2 separate regions of the Homo sapiens genome follow, and region 2 is linked to region 1. The links come from fine-mapping of genetic effects on gene expression. A gene starts in region 1. The other region holds a variant in brackets. All regions are shown on one strand. Distances are from middle to middle.

Region 1 (2,905 bases):
CTGTTCCTGCAAGTAACTCTAAACACATTCACCCTAGGCAAAGAACAAGTGGTTTTGGAACCTGCATTCTCTATTGCCCCTTTGAGACTCGCTCTGGGCTTGGCCCTCTCTCCAAGGGACAACCCTCTCTCTGTCTCCTCCTGGGTTCCCCTCTCCCCCAGCGACCTCCTTTTCATTCTCACTTACCTCCTTGCCTTTCACTCTCCTCTTGGAAGGTGGTTCAGCTAACACTCATTAGCACATGTTAAAGATCGCCAATTCATGTCTCAGTCACTCCGTAGCAGGAGAGGGGAGAAAGGAGGGATGATGCTGTCACTCTGTGGGTAATGTGTCTTACCTTACCACACCACAAGGCCAGGACAGACCCCTAAGGGCTCAGACCGCAGGAGAGAATGGGGAGAGGGCCCAGCTCCCTGCTGGGGAGTCCTGTCTGCTGCCCTCAGGATGTGCGCTCAGTAGCTGCGTCTATTTTCTCTGAGACCAGCTCAGAACATCCCCAAGACAGAGTTGGACGTTGTTCTCTGTCCACTGGAGCAGGCACATTCCCACGATGTCCCTAGGTGGGCGTGGTTAAGACCTGGTACGGGTTGATCTAGTTCTGCCACCCCCTGGCCAAATGTCTAAAAGCCCCCCAGAGCATGGCCAGCGTGAGGCAGGTACCAGGGGTGGAGGGAGGCTCCGAGGGGACGGATATACGAAGACCCAAACAGACAGTGGAAGCCCCCCACCCCCACCCCACACCACTTCCATCGGAATCCTCCCGGGGCACTGCTGATTCCAGCTGCTCCCCACTAAAGCCTTGAGAACTCTTGGCTGCTCTGCAAGACTGAGCCCCATGAAGGAGCCACGTGCGGCGTGGAAAGAGTGCTGAGTTCAAATTGTAGCCCTGCCACTAATTTGCTGGGCCAGTCACTTAATCATCTGAAGTCACAAGTACCTCATCAGAAAAGTGGTCCCAGCTCTTCCTGCTGTGGAAGGATCAGAAGAGAGGAGGCACGACAGAGACCTAGTGAACTCCGAAGCCCGAGTGCTAAATATTTGTCAAGTTTGTGTTAGTATTACTATTAGTGTTGTTACTGCTGTTATTATTATTGCTACTGCCAGCAATAATAAGTGGTGGATGTACTCAAGACGGTCGGGAGGGAAGGCAAGGGCAGCCTCTCCCTCATTTTCACCGAAAATCCTCCGGGTGTCCCTGGCCCCGCGCCGAGGGGTCTCAGCGCAGAGGTAAGGGCCCTCTAGGAGTCCGGGCCGAGCCTCTCGCGCCGCCGCCCCCGCCGCGCCGCGCCCCGGTCGGATTCCCTGAGCGCGCGCGCCCCCTTCTGGCGGCCGGGCGCAGGCGCAGGCTCCAGAGCGTATATAAGGGCAGCGTGGCGCACAACCCCAGCGCGAGTGCCAGAGCCCAGCCGGCGCGGAGCGGGAGCGGTGCAGGCTGAGGTCTCCGAGCGGCTCGCCATGGCTGGCCCGCAGCAGCAGCCCCCTTACCTGCACCTGGCCGAGCTGACGGCGTCCCAGTTCCTGGAAATATGGAAGCACTTTGACGCAGACGGTCAGTAAAGCTCCCAACTTCTGTGCCCATTGGCACCCAGGGGACCTGCGGTGAAGGGGGCAGGGGGCGGCGCTGAATGCGGGCAGGTGTACGTTTGCCCTCAGGAGGTGGTCTGGTCGCAGAGCCTGCTGGGGTAGTGGTCCCGGGTTTGGGAGACATCCGGCTGCTCTGGGCACAACTGTCAGTAACTTTCTTCCCTAACATAGATGACCCAGAGCCCACCCGCATTTGCACCTTTATTCTGAGCAAGTGGGAGCTTTCTCAGAGAGGTGGCCTGGGCTGGGAAGGCCTCCAGGTTCCCCCTGCCATCTCCCCCACCTCCCCTGCCTTCAGCTGCTCCAGCCACAGGTCTCAGAAGACCACTCATTTCTTTCCTCCTCTTCCCCTTTTGTTGAATGCTAGGTTAGCCCCCTTACCCTGCTGGAGGCTGGGATAAATTAGGGGATCCTGAAGGGAAACGTGGCCTCCCCAGCTTGATTGGCTGGGAGCAGGAGTGGAAAATGGCATTGGGGGCCCTGAACACCCCCCTGCTTCCTTTGTCCATTTTCCAGCCGCCGTGGGCATGTAGGTTTCCCAATACAGCAGCAGTGGGTGTGGTGGCGGGCAGCGTTGGGGTGCCAGTCCCAGACCTGTTCCCTCATAGTGATAATCCTGGGTACTCTTGGTGACTTCATCTCTGGGTAGGGGGAGGCACCACCCTAAGTGCCTCAGTGACTAACCCTCTGCTCTGTGTGGTCTTGACACTGACTCACCCAAAAAGCAAGGGCCAGACCAAATGACCTTTGGAGGTAGCCCCCAGCACTGGGATTCCAAGTGTCTGTGGTGGTCTGACTCAGGCATAAAGGGTGGTCCTCCTTTAGAGGCTTTTGATATCACTAGAGACTCTGTTTCTGTTACTCCGAAAAAATAAGTGATCTGATTTCCCTCTCTACGCACAGACCTGGCTAAGATGAGCATCCAAAATATCCTGGCATCTCAGACATTTTGTGGTGTCTGTAGCTACCCTCCCCTCGGGTAGCTAATGGCTCCTGGAGGGGCTGACCCCAAAGGGAGGCCAACGGGAAAGGCTAAGACAGATGCTGTCTCCAGAAGACAAGTTCTTAACCACTGCACTGCACAGCCCCCCAGGGGGCCAGGCTCAGCCTTGTGGGCTCTGACACCTGTCATTCAGGCCCCTGTCCCAGATCTGTGTGGGATGACAGGGAGTTTATCCTGGGGTCTGAGAGCAAGGGGGATGGAAAACAGAGGGGCATCAGGTGTGCCTCACTCCATTCTTCCCTCCTCCCTTCCTCGCCTTGGCAGGGTGTGGAGGTGGCTGGGCAGAGATCCTCTGCCCAGAGTGCTATGGGGAGGCAG
Region 2 (2,905 bases), 350 kb before region 1:
CCAAAGTCTGACTCGGACACCAGCACCCTGAGCTACCCAGGGACAGCTGTGGTTTAAGGGTACTTAGTGCCTGCCCTTGTGGGATTCAATAAAGTAATGCTTATTCTGAAAGAAAAAATAATCACATTTCCCCTAAACATTTTTATTTTCTTATTGGGCCCTTGGGCAGAACAAGGAACTGCCTCTAAGCCAAGGTCTGGGCTTATCTGGCTGCAGGGAGGAGTGACAGGTAGGGAGGGGAGGCCTGCCTGGCCCTGGCCCCCTTAAGCCACACACAGGCCACAGCAAAGCTTGGCTAAAGCCTGGCTTTGGCCTTGATGAATGCAGCCTGGTATAAGAAAAGGATTTTCTATCATTTGTTGGAAGTAAAAGGAATCTGGGTCCATCTGTGGTTGTCTAAGGACCCTAGAGCTCCTGTAGGAGGACCCGTAGGAGGACCCGTAGGAGCCCTTATAGGATTCCGGGGCTGCTTCACTTAGCAGCATTTGGTACAAAGGAAGAGACCCTTAGAGAACCTAAAAACAGCCACCAATTTGGGAGTGCTTGGCATGTCTCAGGGACATATGCATGTTAAGATACACTTCATTTAATCCTCACAGCAACTCTTTTAGACTACCATTTTACAGGTAAGTCAACTGCAGCACAAGGTCACATGGCTAGGAGGAGCACAGCGCTTGGATTCTAACCAGCCACATCTGATTCGGCAGCCCAGGACTCCAACTACCACTAACACACCACATCTTAGAAAAGTTCCACTTTTGGTCCAGGAACAGTGGCTCACACTTGTAATCCTAGCACTTCGGGAGACTGAGGTAGGAGGATCACTTGAGCCTAGGAGATTGAGACTAGCCTGGGAAACATAGAAAGACCCTGTCTCTACAAAACAAACAAACAAACAAACAAAAAACAACAAAAAAACCAGAAATTAGCCAGGTATAATGGTGCACGCCTGTAGTCCCAGCTACAGTAGTCCTTGGCTTGTGCCCAGGAGTTTAAGGGTGTGGTGAACTAAGATTGTGCCACTGCACTCCAGCCTGGGTGACAGAGCGAGACTTTGTTTAAAAAAAAAAATCTACTTTTGAAGCAACAGAAATTGAGGAATGATGAAGACATAGATGGAAGCATCCAGAAAATGAGGCTCCTTCT[T/C]CAGCCTCCTTCCAGGCCTTCCACCCTCCTCTTCCAATCTCCATATTGGCTGGCTGGCGCTCATCATAGAAAAATCAGTGTGAGAATAACATGTTCCTTTGCTGCAGGACTTGGCTCCCTTTAGGCCCTTGTATTCGATTTATTTATAATCTGATTCACAAACGAAGAGCCAAAGCTGTCCGTGGAGACCACTTGGCCCACATGCTCTAAGTTCTAGTGCGGCCTCAGCTTCCCCGCTCTGAGACTGGGCAGAGATGCCAGCCAAGCCAGAGGCTGCTCGGCTCCCTGACGGTTGGCTCTCTAGTCTGGCCTCTTAAAGGTAAAAGCTGGTTCAAGTGCACCGTTTCCTTGTGCTTCTCTTTCACACAGGTGCCATGAAGCATTGTGTTGTTATCAAGCTGATCAGTTAGACTGAAGAGATGGACCTAATAAAAGGGTGGCTCCTGCAGCGACAGCTGTGTGGTCATGAATGGCCAGCCCCGGCACTTCCTGCCAGCTTTCTCATTACATGCAGATGTGGGAGGGGGAGAGACCACCATCCACCATGGTTGACCCAGCTTCCTGTCACGGGCACAAACTCACAGGCTTCAAAGGCAATGGCTGCCTTTTCCTCTTACCGAGGACTTATTTAGCATGCTTGTCCATTTTACTTCTTTCTTTGTTCTTAGATGTGACATGAGGGCCAACTTGGGGAAAAAAATGTGAGCTCAAACAAGAGGGATGCTTTAAATAGATGAGTGAGAATTGCCTACAAAGTCACATGCACACATGTGCATGCACACGCACCGCAGATGTACATGTGTTGTGAAGGAACATGAGAGTGTCTAGGCGACCTCAGACCTATCTAATAAAAGAAAAAGAAAACCCTCTCTTACACTTCTGTTTCTTTTACTAACTGTAAGGCTTAGAAGAATCCTAACTGGATAAGAAAGGTTAGTGTTCGTGTATGTCTGATAAAAGTGACCTTTAGCCACTTTTATGTGGTTTATGTTTTTCAGACGTCCTACACAGAGACAGTCTGTCTGGAAACCAGGTGGCTTTTTTTTTTTTTTTTTGTCTATTCTAGGTGACATTTATGCCTGGAACCTTTCTCTTTGGCGGGTGCCAGGAAGCTGAGAGAGAGGAATCTCAAGCCAGGTATGAAATGATCTCCTTCTCTCTACAAATACCCAGGTGGGAGCAGCTGATTCACCAAGAAACACCCTTTGAGGATGTACTCTGTGCTGGGGACTGTGCTGGGCTCTGGGGCTCCAGAGGTGATAGGGCAGGTGTGCTTGCTGGCCTCACAGGGATTAAGAGATGCTGGGAAGATGGACACCAAGCCATAAGCAGAGGCGTGATGTGAATCACCAAGGAGATGGGAGTACCAATGTCCATGACAGGGGATCTGGCCTAAGGATGGATCTTGGAGAAGGCTTCCCTGCAGAAGGATGGTGAAGCTGAAGTCTGAAGAAGGGGCAGGGACAGCTAGGTGGGGCTGGGGAGGAGCTTCCAGCAAAGAAGGGGGCAGTTGGACAGGAACAGCACTGGGCAGGACAGAGGCCGGTGTGTTGGGTAAACAGAAAGGTCAGTGCCAGAAGCACAGAGCAAATCTGGAGAGGAACGCAGGGACCAGCACATGCTGAGCCTTGCAGAATAGAGTGAGTGCTCTGTACTTTATTCCAAGAAGCACAGGTAGTTACTAAAGGCTTAACGCCAAGGCAGTGGCATGGCTACTGAGGGGAGTAGGAGCTGTGGTGCATGCGTGGAAGCAGAAAGC

What was found. PIP is the estimated chance that this variant, and not a neighbour inherited with it, causes the effect. A credible set is the group of variants that fine-mapping cannot tell apart.
Region 2: its variant is the best candidate, but not a certain one, in a credible set for the expression of CALB2 in ileum (GTEx, PIP 0.59).

The regions. Positions count from the first base shown.
Region 1 is chr16:71,357,338-71,360,242 of GRCh38, forward strand. CALB2 (calbindin 2) reads left to right here and starts at 1,386. Exons shown (of 11, transcript NM_001740.5): 1 at 1,386-1,549. The coding sequence starts at 1,456. RefSeq lists an enhancer at 1,117-2,082 and a silencer at 1,185-1,414.
Region 2 is chr16:71,010,664-71,013,568 of GRCh38, forward strand. The region is part of intron 23 of HYDIN (HYDIN axonemal central pair apparatus protein); the gene reads right to left. Among named protein-coding and RNA genes, the nearest start is that of VAC14, 210 kb to the left of the region's middle. The variant T/C (reference allele first, on the strand shown) is at 1,147.